2 separate regions of the Homo sapiens genome follow, and region 2 is linked to region 1. The links come from fine-mapping of genetic effects on gene expression. Tissue or cell type: testis. Region 1 holds a variant in brackets; the other region holds the start of a gene. All regions are shown on one strand. Distances are between the middles of the regions.

Region 1 (8,174 bases):
TCTACTGAAAATACAAAAATGAGCCAGGCATGGTGGCAGGCACCTGTAATCCCAGCTACTCAGGAGGCTGAGGCAGGAGAATCACTTGAACCCGGGAGGTGGAGGTTGCAGTGAGCCGAGATCGCACCACTGCACTCCAGCCTGGGCGACAGAGCAAGACTCCATCTCAAAAGAAGAAAGAAAGAAAGGACTGTTTTTGCCTTCCCTCCAAGCATGTCCCTATAGGAGGGAATATAGGTTAGGTTTAAAAGCCTGACAGCAAAGGTTTGGTTTTCAGTCACGTGATCTTGGGCATGTGACCTCCCCTCCCTGAGCCTCAGTTTGTTCCTCCGTGAGGAAAAGGGGATAACACCCTGATATCTGATAGCATTGTTCATTGTTGTGAAGGTAAGATGAATGGATATAGGCAAGATGCTTAGTCCAGTCCTGATTAAACAGTAAGCACTCAAGACAGTCACTCATTATTAGTAGCAGTGATATCATCTGCGGGGGTGACTTCATCCCCCTGTCCCCAGACCAGTGCCCTGGGCCTCACCCTGGATGCCTCTGTCCCCATCCCCCAGCCTGTCAGCCTCGTGGGCTGTCCACTCGGCCTCCCAGACATCCCCCCGACCCCGCTTTCCTCATCCCCATGTCCCGCCCAAGTCCAAACCATCATTGCCTCTTGCCTGCGGAACGCCAACACCGCTACTGTCTACTAGGCTCTTACCCTCTGCCAGGCATCGATATTAACTATGTAACATTTAGTAATTTACATTAATGATCTCACTGAGTCCTTATTAGGTATCGCTATGATCCTCATACGGAGAAGGAAGGAGACTCCTCCATTCTTTTCATTCAGCAAACATTTCCTGAGCCTCTCTTCTGGGTCTGAGTCTGGTTCTGGGCTGGATAGGGCTGGGGACTTGGTGGAGACCAGGGCAGCCCCAGGCCCTGCCCTCATGGAGCTCCCAGTCCACGGGGGAGACAGACCCGTCCCAGATAATTCCTTAATACTCTCTCTTCTTTTTTTTTTTTTTTTTTTTTTGGAGACAGAGTCTTGCTCTGTTGCCCAGGCTGAAGTGCAGTGGCACAATCTTGGCTCACTGCAACCTCTGCCTCCAGAGTTCAAGCAATTCTCCTGCCTTAGCCTCCCAAGTAACTGGGACTACAGGTGCGCACCACCACATCTGGCTAATTTTTTGTATTTTTAGAAGAGAAGGTGTTTCACCGTGTTGCCTAGGCTGGTCTTGAACTCCTGACCTCAGGCGATCTGCCCCCCCCCCCCCCACTTAGCCTCCCAAAGTGCTGGGATTACAGATGTGAGCCACTACGGCTGGCCCTGGATAATTCCTTAATTCTGAGAATGCTAAGCCCTCACCCATCTGAGTGTCAACCCTGGAGTCAAGGCGAGGGATGGGGAGCAGGGCTGCTGGATGGTGGGAAAGGGGGTGCTGGAGGAGCCTCCCAGGGCTCACAGGTGTTCTTGGAAAGAGGGGTCATGATGGAGGAGGGTAGAGGGACCTTGGGGTCTCAAGAACGTCCCTCTGCCTCTAGATTGTCCTGCCGCCCCATCTGGAGCGCATTCGGGAGAAGCTGGCGGAGAACATCCACGAGCTCTGGGCGCTAACCCGCATCGAGCAGGGCTGGACCTACGGCCCGGTGAGGGGCTGCCTGCAGCCTGCGGGAGGCCGGCTAGACTTGCGGTGCCAGGAGGGAGAGCGGCTCACCGGCGGAGAGGAGGGAGGGACCACAGGGCACCAGGGGGTCCTTGGACTGAGGGTGGCAGAACTAGGGTTGGAGGTCAGGGGTCATAGTCTGGGCATGTGGGGAGTGGGAAGGAAAGGGGAGCACATGGAGTTGACCCTGGGTTTTCTCCAGGTTCGGGATGACAACAAGAGGCTGCACCCGTGTCTTGTGGACTTCCACAGCCTTCCAGAGCCTGAGAGGAACTACAACCTGCAGATGTCTGGGGAGACGCTCAAGTGAGGGCCCAGGGGAGCCGGGGGTTGGGGCTGGCTGCTGGTGCGGTGGGGGAGGGAGGCATGGAGAGACAGGGCAGGAGGTAGAGACTGAGAGAGAGAAGGATGGAGGGGACAGGGATTGTGAGACATAAACAAATGGGGAGTGGCCGGGCACGGTGGCTCACACCTGTAATCCTAGCACTTTGGGAGGCCGAGACGGGTGGATCACTTGAGGTCAGCAGTTCGAGACCAGTCTGGCCAACATGGCAAAACCCCGTCTCTACTAAAAATACAAAACTTAGCCGGGCGTGGTGGTGCACCTCTGTAATCCCAGCTCCTCAGGAGGCTGAGGCAGGAGAATCATTTGAACCTGGGAGGCAGAGGTTGCAGCGAGCCGAGATCACACTACTGCACTCCAGCCTGGGCGACAGAGCGAGACACCGTTTCAGAAAAAAAAAAAAAAAAAAAAAAAAAAAAAAAGAAGCAAACGGGGAGCAAGAAAGGGACAGAGGCAGAAAGAGAGAGAAAGAAAAGGTGGGGATGGAAAGAGAGAGAGATGCAGAAAGAGACAGGGAGACAGGAGAAAGTGGCAGACAGGAAAAGACAGACATAGTTAGTTATACAGACAAGGCGCAGGGAAAGACAGAAGTCATGAAGCCTGAGGCCAGGATCAAGAGAGACAGGGCCAGAGCGCCCCAGGCACTGAAGCAGCAGAGGTAGAGGGAGCTGGAGACCCTGAGGCCGTGGGAGGAGACGGGGCAGGGAGCTCTGAGGGGCGTGACCTGTCGCCTCCACTCCCCCACCCCCAGGACTCTGCTGGCTCTGGGCTGCCACGTGGGCATGGCGGATGAGAAGGCGGAGGACAACCTGAAGAAGACAAAACTCCCCAAGACGTGAGTGTGGGCAGCCAGGTCCCGTCTGGGGATGGACTGGGGGCTGGGGATGCTGTGCTAAGGGCTGGGGAGGTCGAGGGGTCTTGTGGGGAGGCTGAGGTTAGGGAGGAAGGAGACTTGGGTTAGGGTGAAGGTCATAGGGTCAGGGCTCTGGGGTCAGAGGTGAATGTCCAGGATTGAGGAGTTAGGAGTTTCAGAGAGAGAGAGAGGGAGGGTATGAGTCCAGGATCCAGGCTCAGGGTCTGCCTAGAGTCAGGGAAAATGAGAGCAGAGGTCACATGTCCACGTAAGGGGTAAGGGGCCAATGGTAAGAGGTGAGAATCTGGAGGTCGTTGGAGTCGTCTAAGTAAGGGATCCTGAAATTATAGGTGAGCAGTTACACGTCCTGAGTTCAGAGGTCAAGGACTCCAGACCCAGGAGTTTGGGGTGGATGAGGACTGGGATCAGAGTAAGAAACCTCAGAGTGGGCTGGGTGAGGTGGCTCACACCTGTAATCCCAGCACTTTGGGAGGTTGAGGCAGGAAGATCACTTGAGCCCAGTTCAAGACCAGCCTGGGCAACATGGTGAGACCCCTCTACAAAAAATTTAAAAATTAGCAGGACATGGTGGTGGGACATGCCTGTAGTTCCAGCAACTTGGGAGGTTGAGATGGGAGAATTGCTTGAACCCAGGAGTTTGAGGCTGCAGTGAGCCATGATTGCACCACCGCACTCCAGCCTGGGTGACAGAACGAGAAAACAACCTCAAAAAAACAAAAAGAGCCGGGCTCAGTCGCTCACGCCTGTAATCCGAGCACTTTGGGAGGCCGAGGCGGGCGGATCACCTGAGGTCGGGAATTCGAGACCAGCCTGACCAACACGGTGAAACCCACCCTCTACCAAAAATACAAAATTAGCCGGGTGTGGTGGCACATGCCTGTAATCCCTGCTACTCCGGAGGCTGAGGCAGGAGAATCACTTGAACCCAGGAGGTGGAGGTTGCAGTGAGCCGAGATCGTGCCATTGCACTCCAGCCTGGGCAACAAGAGTGAAACTCCGTATCAAAAAAAAAACAAAGAGAGAGAAAAACCTCAAAGTTAGTGGTGAGAGGTCTGAGAGAGTTCCGGGGTTAGAGATAGGGGTCCCAAAGTCAAGACAAAGGGGGCTAGAGGTCATTGATGTCAAAGCCCTTGCTAGGGTCCCAGGATCCTAGGGTCAGAAGCCAGGGATCTCAAAACTTATTCTAAAATTTCATAGAACTGCAACATTATATCAAAGGTCAGAAACGCCGAAGCTGGGACAAGGGTCAGCAGTCAGGGATCCCATATAGTGCAGAGCCCGGAAGTGGAGGTGAGGGCCTTGTCCCATGGAGCCCTACCATGCCCGCAGGTATATGATGAGCAATGGGTACAAGCCGGCTCCGCTGGACCTGAGCCACGTGCGGCTGACGCCGGCGCAGACGACACTGGTGGACCGTCTGGCAGAAAATGGGCACAA[C/T]GTGTGGGCCCGAGACCGCGTGGGCCAGGGCTGGAGCTACAGCGCAGTGCAGGACATCCCAGCGCGCCGAAACCCTCGGCTGGTGCCCTACCGCCTGCTGGATGAAGCCACCAAGCGCAGCAACCGGGACAGCCTCTGCCAGGCCGTGCGCACCCTCCTGGGCTACGGCTACAACATCGAGCCTCCTGACCAGGAGCCCAGTGAGTGCTCACCCCTGGCCCTGGCCCTGACTCCTACCCCAACTCTGACCCCAGCCCCGATCCCTGATCTCTGACCTGACTCAGCCCCCAAATGGGCTATATCTTTTTTTTTTTTTTTTTTTTTGAGACGGAGTCTCGCTGTCCCCAGGCTGGAGTGCAATGGCGCGATCTCTGCTCACTGCAAGCTCCACCTCCTGGGTTCACACCATTCTCCTGCCTCAGCCTTCCGAGTAGCTGGGATTACCGGCGGGTGCCACCACGCCTGGCTAATTTTTTGTATTTTTAGTAGAGACAGGATTTCACCGTTTTAGCCAGGATGGTCTCGATCTCCTGACCTCGTGATCCGCCTGCCTCGGACTCCCAAAGTGCTGGGATTACAGGCGTGAGCCACTGCACCTGGCCCAAATGGGCTATATCTATCACATCGAGCAGACTGACCAGGAGGTCAGAAAGGACTGACCCCTCCCCGAAACTCTGAGCCTTACCCCAGTTCCAACTCGGAACCTGATGGAACCACTTCCCTTTACCTGACGCCAGCCCTGCCTGGGCTATGACTGCAAACCAGAGCCGTCAGCCTAGGAACCCAATGAGTGCCAACCCCACCTTTGACTCTGATTCCTGACCTCTAGCTTTGATCCCTAATCACTAATCTCTGAACTGTAGCTACCACATGAAGGCACCCAACCAAGGGCTTAGAGAGCCTGGTCACCCCTACCCCTAACCTGACTCCTGACCTATCACTGGCTTCCAATCCCAGCCTTGACCCCAAACCCTGGCCATGGTCCCCAACCTTCAGTTTCTCAACTCTTGGCCCCAACCTGAATTTCCATCCCTTCCATAATCCTGGCTCTGACCCTCCAATCCTGGTCTCAGCCCTTCATTCTAATCAACCCTGATCTTGACCCTTAACCCCAGACCATAACTCTGACCAGTTCACTGAGCTGGCTTTTTCCTTCTGTGTCTCTGCCAGTATCCCTGTTTTCTGAGAATTCTGACTGCTACAGAGATGGGGGTCTCTCTCAACAGGTCCCTGCCTCTCTCTGACTTTTCTGAGGTTCCCCAATTCTCCTCTAACTCCAAGAAATTGACCCTCTTCCAACAGTTCCCCAAAGCCCTTACTGTCCCCCAAAGCCTGTCTTCTACCAACTTCTCGATGTCTTGGGATCCACATCTTCCCTAGCCTCTCTGACTCTGCCTGGCCTCATTTATAGGTCAGGTGGAGAACCAGTCTCGTTGTGACCGGGTGCGCATCTTCCGGGCAGAGAAATCCTATACAGTGCAGAGCGGCCGCTGGTACTTCGAGTTTGAAGCAGTCACCACAGGCGAGATGCGCGTGGGCTGGGCGAGGCCCGAGCTGAGGCCTGATGTAGAGCTGGGAGCTGACGAGCTGGCCTATGTCTTCAATGGGCACCGCGTGGGTACCTCCCTGGGCACCATTCTGCCAGGTCCTGTGGTCTCTCCCACAGCTTGTCTACTCTGGCCCTGCCTCTGTCTGTGCCTCACTCTGTCCCCACTTCATGCATCTACTGTACCACTCATCCACCCATCTATCCATCCATTCAACCAATGATTCATCCATCCATCCATCCATCGATCTATCAGACATCCATCTATCCAACCAACAATTCATCCATCCATCCATCCATCCATCATCCATCCATCCATCCATCCATCCATCCATCCATCCATCCATCCAACCATCCATCCAGCTAACCAACCATCCATTCATCCAGCCAACATAGGGAGACCCCATCTCTACAAAAAATAAAAAAATTAGCTAGGCAAGGTAGCATGCACATATAGTCCCATCATCCATCCATCCATCCATCCATCCATCCATCATCTATCCATCTGACCAGCCAACCATGCATCCATCCATGCATTCAACCATCCATCCATCATCCATTCATCCCTCATCCATCCAACCAACCATCCATCCATCCATTCTTCCAGCCAACTGTCCATCCATCCATCCAATAACCATCTGCCCATCCAACAACCATTTATACAACCATCCTTCCCTTCTTCCCTCTATCTGTCATCCATTTATTTATGCTTGCCCCTACTTACACTTTGTTCTTTCTCTGTATCAACCCAGGTAAACTCTCAACTTTCCAATCATTCTTCTGTCCAGCCATGTACCCAATTTCTCATCCATCTATCTGTCTCATTAGCCACTCATCTATTTTGTGCATGTATATAAGCATATATGGATCTGTATGGGGACACTGATAGGTTCATTTTTCCTTTCCATCCCTCTACTTACTGCTGCTTCCAGCCCCCCACTACCACTTTGGTGGTCTGCATAATGCTAGCCATGGCAACAGCAGAGAACCCAGGCAGAAGGGATGAGACACAGAGATTAGTGGGGAGAAAAATTCCTGTGATCATGGATGCAAATGTGAGGAAAGATGGAGACACTGTGGGGTGACCCCTCTTCCATACCACCTGCCCTGAACCTGACACTTCGAATGTCTGTCTTCATATATCTCTCCCTCCCTGCTTCCTTATCTCTCCATTTCTCTGTGTGTCTCCCCACACCATGTCTTCTCTGGCTGTCCTCACAGGGCCAGCGCTGGCACTTGGGCAGTGAACCATTTGGGCGCCCCTGGCAGCCGGGCGATGTCGTTGGCTGTATGATCGACCTCACAGAGAACACCATTATCTTCACCCTCAATGGCGAGGTCCTCATGTCTGACTCAGGCTCCGAAACAGCCTTCCGGGAGATTGAGATTGGGGACGGTGAGGGCTGAGACCCCTTCACATGCCCTTTCTTGTTTTCCTCTGTCTCTCCCAACCCTGCACTGCCCTTCTGCCTCCAACTCTCCCATCCCTACCTCCTCCCCTCGGCTCCCTCTGCCCTGCCCACCTGCCCTCACCCCTGCCCATCCATCCCCTCCCACCAGGCTTCCTGCCCGTCTGCAGCTTGGGACCTGGCCAGGTGGGTCATCTGAACCTGGGCCAGGACGTGAGCTCTCTGAGGTTCTTTGCCATCTGTGGCCTCCAGGAAGGCTTCGAGCCATTTGCCATCAACATGCAGCGCCCAGTCACCACCTGGTTCAGCAAAGGCCTGCCCCAGTTTGAGCCAGTGCCCCTTGAACACCCTCACTATGAGGTAAGGACTGAGCCCCTCAATGCCTTCTCATCTGCCTCCAAAGCTCCTTCCTTCCACAGTGCTCTTCTTTGAGTTTCTCTTTTCCCTCCATGTTAGGACACAAACCACATGGAAGCAAGTGTCAGAGTGATGGGCTCACGGGCTGTATGACTCCGGGTGTAACTTTGGCAAACCACAGCTTCCTGAGGTCCAGGTGCCTCACCTATAAAATAAGGGAAACCCTGCCTGGGCAACAAGCAAAACTCCATCTCTAAAAATAAAAAAAAATTAAGTCTAGGCATGGTAGCTCATGCCTGTTATCCCAGCACTTAGGGAGGCTGAGGCAGGAGGATCCCTTGAGCCCAGGAGTTCAAGACCAGCCTTGGCAACATAGGGAGACCCCGTCTCTACAAAAAATAAAAAAAAAAATTAGCAAGGTGTGTAGTATGCACATATAGCCCTAGCTACTCAGGAGGTTGAGACTGGAGGATTGCTTGATTCCAAGAGGTCAAGACTGCAGTGAATTAGCCAGATGTGGTGGCACATGCCTGTAATTCCAGCTACTTAG
Region 2 (8,174 bases), 32 kb before region 1:
AAATACAAAAATTAGCAGGGTGTGGTAGTGGGTATTGCTCTGTCATCCCGGCTACTTGGGAGGCTGAGGCATGAGAATCAGTTGAACCCAGGAGGTGGAGGTTGCAGTGAGCTGGGATTGAGCCACTGCACTCCAGCCTGGGAGACAGAATGGGACTCCATCTAAAAAAAAAAAAAAAAAAAAAGAATATAAAAGGAACAGCTGCAAATCAGCAAGCGAAAAAGACAGCAACCATAATAGAAAAATGGCCGGGCTCAGTGGCTCCTGCGCCTATAATGTAAGATTACATGCTTGTAATCTCAGCACTTTGGGAGACCGAGGTGGGTAGACTACCTGAGGTCAAGAGTTCAAGACCACCCTGGCCAACATGGCGAAACCCCGTCTCTACTCAAAATACAAAAATTAGGCTGGGCACAGTGGCTCACGCCTGCAATCCTAGCACTTTGGGAGGCCAAGGCAGGCGGATTGGCTGAGCTCAGGAGTTCGAGACCAGCCTGGGCAACACAGTGAAACCCGATCTCTACTAAAATACAAAAGAAATTAGCCAGGTGTGGCAGTATGCGCCTGTAGTCCTGGGGGTGCTGAGGCAGGAGAATTGCTTGAACCCAGGAGGCGGAGGTTGCAGTGAGCCGAGATGGTGCCACTGAACTCCAGCCTGGGCGACAGAGCAAGACTCTGTCTCAAAAAAAAAAAACAAAAAAAAGTGAGCAGGGATCACAATGAGCAGATAACAAAGAAACCCAAAACTCTGATAGGCACTTGAGAAGATGCTAGAAATTGTTGGTAACTCATCAGGGAAGTGGAAATTAAAATGACAGCGAGTCCAGGCGCGGTGGCTCTTGCCTGTAATCCTAACACTTTGGGAAGCTGAGGTAGGAGGATCACTTGAGACCAGCAGTTCAATACCAGCCTGGGCAATATAGTAAGACCCCACCTCTATAAAAAATTTAAAAGTTAGTTGGGCGTGGTGGCACAAGCCTGTTGTCCCAGCTGCTCGGGAGGTTGAGGTGGGAGGATCCCTTGAGCCCAGGAGTTCCGGGCAGCAGTGAACCATAATTGCGCCACTGCACCCCAGCCTGGGCAACAAAGTGAGATCTCATCTCTAAAAATAAAATAGAGAAAATAAATTAAAAAACAGTGAGTCACCCTATATAAATCTGGCAAAAATTAGTTAAGTTGGAAATGCCACATGAGGGTTGGGGATATGGGGACCCGGGGACCCTCATGCACTGGTAGTGAGTAGCCATTCCGAGGGCTACCCAGCACTACTTACACAAATGGTGCGCATGGATATGTCACCCAGCAATTAGCTTCTGGGTACGCACAATAAAACATTCTCCCTCAGCTTCCTGGGGGACCAATACACAGATGTTCCCTCCAGCATTATTTCGGGAGAGCTGGAGGCAGCCTGGGTGTCCGCTCCCAGTAGGGGTAGGTGGAAAAACAGAAGGGATCAGTCACCAGAGAATCCTGCAAAGCCACCACTGTCACACACCAGGTGTCCACAGAGCAACAAGGGTAGGTCTTAAAACACATAATGATGACTGACAAAAATAAGAAACACTATTAATATCTTATGATATAATGCTCAATGACACAGAATCATTTTACATTTACATAAAGTTTTAGGGAAAAACAATATTTAATATACAACTATGCGTTGGATAATGTATAACAGATACAACATAGAATTGTATTGTACTGTATAATTATATTAGCCTAAATATATAATTATATAATTATACATTATATAATGCCAAATTATATAATTCCATAATATGACACAAACTTTTGTGCTATTTATTGCAGTTGTGTTAACATCAGTATTTAATTATGGAACACCTAGAAACCTGCTATACCTTGAAGAACGGTTTCTATGTAATTTTGTTTAACTATGGGATATTGTTTTATATAACTTACTGTATACCACTACATGTTAATAAAAAAAATTTTTTTTTTTTTTTTTGAGGTGGAGCCTTGCTCTGTCACCTGGGCTGGAGTGTAGTGGTACAATCTCGGCTCACTACAACCTCTGCCTCCTGGGCTTAAATGATTCTTGTTCCTCAGCCTCCCAAGTAGCTGGGATTAGAGTCGTGTGACACCATGCCCAGCTAATTTCTGTGTTTTTAGTAGAGTCAGAGTTTCACCATGTTGACCAAGCTGGTCTCAAATTCCTGGCTTCAAGTGATCTGTCTGCCTTGGCCTCCCAACGTGCTGGGATTACAGGCATGAGCCACTGTGTCTGGCCTAGTAATAATTTTAATAGGGCTGGACGTGGTGGTTTACACCTGTAATCCCAGCACTTTGGGAGGCTGAGGTGGGCGAATCATGAGGTCAGGAGTTCGAGACCAGCCTGGCCAACATGGTGAAACCCCGTCTCTACCAAAAATACAAAAATTAGCCGGGTGTGTTGGCAGGTGCCTGTAATCCCAGCTACTCAGGAGGCTGAGGAGGAGAATCGTTTGAACCTGGGAGGTGGAGGTTGCAGTGAGTCAAGATCTTGCCACTGCACTCCAGTCTGGGCAACAAGAGCAAGAGTCCGTCTCAAAATAAATAAATAAATAAATAAATAATAATAATAGCAACACTTACATTACATTAACCAGGCACTGGCACTGTTTTAAGTTTTATCTCATTTAATTAATTATCTCATTTAACTCTCCCAACAACCACGTGAGGTCGGTACTATTAATATTCCCCTTACTGGATGGGGAAACCGAGGCACAGAGAAGCTAAGTGGCTTATCCATGTAACTCAAGGAAGTGGCAAGGCTGGGTGGGATTCAGATCCAGATTATCTGGCTTGGAGTCGGAGTCCTTGTTCTTTTTTTTTTTTTTTTCAGACGAAGTCTCGCCCAGGCTGGAGTGCAGTGGCTCAATCTCGGCTCACTGCAGCTTCTGCCTCCCGAATTCAAGGAGTTCAAGCAATTCTCCTGCCTCAGTTTCCCAAGTGGCTGGGATTACAAGCATGTGTCACCACGCCTGGCTAATTTTTGTACTTTTAGTAGAGACGGGGGTTTCACCATGTTGGCCAGGCTGGCCTCGAACTCCTGACCTCAAGTGATCCACCCACCTCGGCGTCCCAAAGTGCTGAGATTACAGGGGTGAGCCACCACTCCCGGCCGGAGTCCTTGTTCTTAATCACTATGTTTGGTGCTTTTTAAAGTCAGGAGATCTGGTGCACATCCCTGCTCTGCTGCGTGATATCTTGCAAGAACTTCCCCACTCAGAGCCTCAGTCTGCCCTCTGTGAAATGGGAGAATGATGGCACGTTACTTACCGTGGTGGGGAGAAAGCGCAGGTACCTCCTAGATACTCTCTCTCCCACCCCACCTCCGGCGGCCAACGGCCAAGCAAACCTCCAGCCAAGATTTGGGGTATGTGGGCAGGGCTCCGGCGAAGGGGAGTGGCCGGGGAGTCCTGGTCCAATGGGGCCCGGGGGCGGGGACTTCCTCCCATCTCTGTCCAGCATGCGTGTACTCCTCGCAGTTCCATCTACCTCGCGGGTGCCTCTGGTGTCTCCAGAGGTCTCCGACCCCAGCCCGCCCCCAGCCCTCCCGCCCAGCCCGCAGCCCCCTCCCTCTGTTCCCCGACCTCAGACCCTGGGCTTCCGACCTCGACATCATGGGTGACGCAGAAGGCGAAGACGAGGTCCAGTTCCTGCGGACGGTGCGTATCTCTGGGTTAGGGGCCTGTGGGGCTATCTCTTGGGGCTCTCTGAGGGTCTCTCTGTCTCTGAATGTCCCTGTCCGGCTTGCTGGTGGTCTCTGAGACTCGAGGTCTCTTCCTATGTCACTTTGAGTGACTGTCACTCTGTCTTTTAGTCTCCTTCACCTTTCTCACTACAGAGAATTAGTAGGATTGGGGACTCCAGAATGGGAAAGGGATCTTCGGTTGCCCTCTCTTCTGACTTTAGCGATTTGTCCCCCACAAGAAGGACCCCCGAGGGAGCACACCCTCACACCATCTTGGAAGCAGGCACTTGGGGAAGGTGGTTCTAATTCCTGGGCTTGATTTAGCCATCCCCCCACCCCCACCTTAGCCCTAATTCTCTTTTTGCTCCAGACTCTGACCTATTTAAATTCTTGAGAAGGGAGCTGGAGTGAGCTGGAGGACACAGCTGCTTCCAACTCCTAGCCCTTGAGGGTCTTGTGGGGGAGGGATCTCTTGGGTTCTGGGTCTTTCTTTCCTTCTTCGTTTTGGGCAGGAGGGCTGCTCCCAATGGCTGCTAATGGTCTTGCAGGGTCTCTGGGTGGTGTCTCTCCCCATCTGTCTCTTTGGGTGTCTCCATGTCTCTGTCTCTTCCTCCATCTCAGTCTCCCTGTCTCTGTTTCTTAGCTTAAGGCCCTCTGATTTTCGCTGTCTCTCTAGCTGGGTTACTCCCTGCATCTGAGCCCCAGCTGGGGGCAGGGATGGGAATTGGAACAACAGGTGTCCCTCCCAGAATAGCCGGCTTTTCTGGGGCCTGGGCAGGGGATGGGGAGGGGATGAGAGGGAGGAGGGGCTGCCATCTCCTTGTCCTTCCCATCTTCCCCTCCCAGTGGCTCCGCAGGGTGTGGGGTCGTAAATATGGGAGGGGACGTCCTCTCCTCTGGGCTAGGTCTGCTGACCAGACGCTAGCCCCGCCCCTCCCCCCGGGGCCCTGGAGCCACACAGGAAATGCTGACACAGCATTCCTGCCCCAGAATAGGACCCTGGCGAGCCGGGTCCGGTTTCCTGGGAGAGAGGAACAAACAGCTGGGGCTGGTAGTGAAGGATGGGGACAGCTGGGAAGGGGCCTAGCTTCAGCCGAGACTCTCTCCCCAGCCCCAGCCCCTCAGCAGACACCATGGGTCGGGCCCTCCCCAGCCCTAATAAGACCATGGCCATGGCCACTGGCTCTTGAGCTGTCGCTCTAAACCAGGCCCTGTGCCCTGGGCCTCTGCCTCCTGAGACATCTAATTATATCCTTGCTGCCCTGTCTTCTGAGGTAGGGTCCTATCTTTATCTCCCTGACAGATTTGAGGGAAACCAAGGCCCGAATGGTAGAATCACTCACCCAAGGTCAAGGCCAGGAAGTGGCATCTCTGGATGCCCCTGGTGCCCAGCCCCATTGCCTTCACCAGAGAAAATCTGGGCCCAGACTTGCCAAAGTAGTCAGCGTTAGGGTTCTGGAGGCTTGGCCCTGGAATCTCTCCACCCCAGACTGGGTCAGTTTTTCTGATTGTTACTGAGGTCGTGGTGGATTTCTCAAAACTTTCTGGAGGCTGGGCTCAGTGGCTCATGCCTGTAATCTCAGCACTTTGGGAGGCCAAGGTGAGCGGATCACTTGAGGTCAGGAGTTTGAGACCAGCCTGGCCAACATGGTGAAACCCCGTCTCTACTAAAAATACAAAAAAATATTAGCCAGGCGTGGTGGTGCATGCCTGTAATCTTAGCTACTCGGGAGGCTGAAGTGGGAGGATTGCTTGAACCTGGGAGGCAGAGGTTGCAGTGAGCCGAGATTGCGCCACTGCACACTCCAGCCTGGGCGACAGGGCGAGACTCCATCTCAGAACAAAAAACCTTCTGGACCACATCCCGCCCATAAGAAACATTCTGTCTTACAACTCAGTACATGCACACATGCATAGACATGACTAAAAACCAACTTTATTGAGGTATAATTGACCTGCAATAAATTTTACCCAGTTTATGTGTTCAATGAGTTGTTTTGTTTTTGTTTATTTATTTATTTTTTTGAGATGGAGTTTCACTCTTGTTGCCCAGACTGGAGTGCAATGGCGTGATCGCAGCTCACTGCAACCTCTGCCTCCTGGGTTCAAGCGATTCTTCTGCCTCAGCCTCCTGAGTAGCTGGGATTACAGGCGCGTGCCACCAAGCCGAGCTAATTTTTTGTATTTTTAGTAGAGATGGGGTTTCACCATGTTGGCCAGGCTGGTCTTGAACTCCTGACCTCAGATGATCCACCCATCTTGGCCTCCCAAGGTGCTGGGATTACAGGTGTGAGCCACCACGCCCGGCCTTTTTTTTTCTTTTTGAGACAGAGTCTCAATCTGTTGCCCAGGCTGGAGTACAGCAGTTTGGTGGTTGGTTCAACGCAACCTCCACTTCCCAGGCTCCAGTGATCCTCCCACCTCAGCCTCCTGAGTAGCTGGGACTACACGTGCATAGCACCATGCTTGGCTAATTTGTAAAATTTTTTGTAGAGGTGAGGTCTCACTATATTGCCCAGGCTGGTGTCAAACTCCTGGGCTCAAGAAATCCTCCGGCCTTGGCCTCCCAAAGTTTTGGGATTACAGGCATAAGCCACCATGCCCGGCCTTTCTTCTTTCACTCAGCATAATATTTTTGACATTCATCCATGTAGCATGTATTGAGTTTGTTGCTTTTTGTTGCCGAATATTATTCCATTGTGCGACTATACTGTGGTGTGTTTATCAGTTCACCTGCTGATGGACATTTGAGTCGTCTCCAATTTTTACTATTATAGACAACACAGGGCCTGTGACCATTCACTTGTACCTATTTTTAACTGAAACAAGTCTCATAAAATGTAGATGGCCCCTGAAGCATGATGGGCACGCTGTGATTTTCTATTCTTGCTCCATTTTGCTTCGTTTGGTTAAGTATGATGGCCACAGCCCCCCCAAACTGATTTCACTTCCCTTTGGTGGGTGGTGACCTCTACCCTTACCCAGGCTGGGGTTTCTCAAACCCTGGCCCAAGTTAGAAGCTCCTGGGGTCTGGTAAACAGTACGTATTCCCTGCTGACCCCAAATCAGGCTCTTGATGGTGGTAGGGGACTGGGCCAGCAGGGAAGCTATATTTTTAACCAGAACCCTCCGCTTCCTTCATTTTTTTTTTCTTTTTCTTTTTTTTTTAAGATGGAGTCTTCCTTTGTAGCCCAGGCTGGAGTGCAATGGCACAATCTCGGCTCACTGCAACCTCCGCCTCCTGGGTTCAAGCGATTCTCCTGTCTCAGCCTCCCGAGTAGCTGGGATTACAGGCATGCACCACTACGCCCGGCTAATTTTTGTACTTTTAATAGAGATGGGGTTTCACCATGTTGGCCAGGCTGGTCTCGAACTCCTGACCTCAAGTGATGCGCCCACCTTGGCCTCCCAAAGTGCTGGGATTACAGGAATGAGCCACCTCGCCCAGCCTGCCTTCATTCTAATTCAGGAAAAGTTTGAGAATCAATGTGGTAATGATTGGGCTCTCTGTCGCTGCTTTGCACTCTGGCTTTGCCATTTGCCTGCTTCCTAATTTGGGGCAAGTGATTTTTATTTTTCTCTCTGAGCCTCAGTGTTCTCATCTGGAAAATGGGGACAAGATTATATACAATAGCCAGACCCCATGGCTCACACCTGTAATCCCTTCGCTTTGGGAGGCTGAAGCAGGACGATTGCTTGAGGCCGGGAGTTCAAAAACAGCCTGGGCAACATAGGGAGACCTTGTCTTTACAAAAAATGTTAAACTTTAGCTGGGCGTGGCAGTGTGCACCTGTAGTACCAGCTACTTGGGAGGCTGAGGTGGGAAGATCACTTGAAACCAGGAGTCGGAAGCTGCAGTGAGCTGTGATCTCGCCACTGCACTCCAGTCTGGGCAACAGAGCAAGACCCTGTGTCTACAAAAATATATATATCTTAAATTAGCTGGGTGTGGTGGCATGAGCCTGCAGTCATAGCTTCTCAGGAGGCTGAATGGAGAGGATCACTCAGCCTAGGAGTCCAAGGCTGCAGTGAGCTATGATCGTACCACTGCACTCCACCCCAGGAGACAGAGTGAGACCCAGTCTCTTAAAAAAAAAAAAAAAGTTATTTTTCAAGGGGCCCATGCAAGTATCTCTCTGACCTCATCTCCTCCCTGTTTGCCCCTCCTCCTTGCGGCCACCATCCTGCTCCATCTCCTGTGCTGTCCCTCAACACCCCAGCACCCAGACTCCCTCCTCTTACCCCAGAGATGAGCAGGCCTGATTCCTTCTTGTTATTTGGACAAGGCTCAACTCAAATGTCACCTCCTTGGAGAGGCTGTCACTTCACTCCCTCACTGATCTCATCCCCATCCTAAAAGCCACTCTCTTACATCAGCCTGGGTTATTTTTTCTATAACACCTATCACTGACATTAACATTACATATTAATTCACCTGTTTATTCCCTGTCTCCACCATGAGGATTTAAGCTCCCTGAGG

What was found. PIP is the estimated chance that this variant, and not a neighbour inherited with it, causes the effect.
Region 2: it holds the start of RYR1, and the variant in region 1 is fine-mapped to the expression of RYR1 in testis (GTEx, PIP above 0.99).

Annotation. Positions count from the first base shown.
Region 1 is chr19:38,461,887-38,470,060 of GRCh38, forward strand. RYR1 (ryanodine receptor 1) reads left to right here. Exons shown (of 106, transcript NM_000540.3): 21 at 1,537-1,641; 22 at 1,861-1,964; 23 at 2,753-2,836; 24 at 4,205-4,512; 25 at 5,724-5,926; 26 at 7,080-7,254; 27 at 7,419-7,627. Among named protein-coding and RNA genes, the nearest start is that of RYR1, 32 kb to the left of the region's middle. RefSeq lists enhancers at 1,207-1,708, 2,219-2,815. The variant C/T (reference allele first, on the strand shown) is at 4,313.
Region 2 is chr19:38,430,207-38,438,380 of GRCh38, forward strand. RYR1 (ryanodine receptor 1) reads left to right here and starts at 3,485. Exons shown (of 106, transcript NM_000540.3): 1 at 3,485-3,668. The coding sequence starts at 3,624. RefSeq lists a silencer at 3,368-3,507 and an enhancer at 4,239-4,814.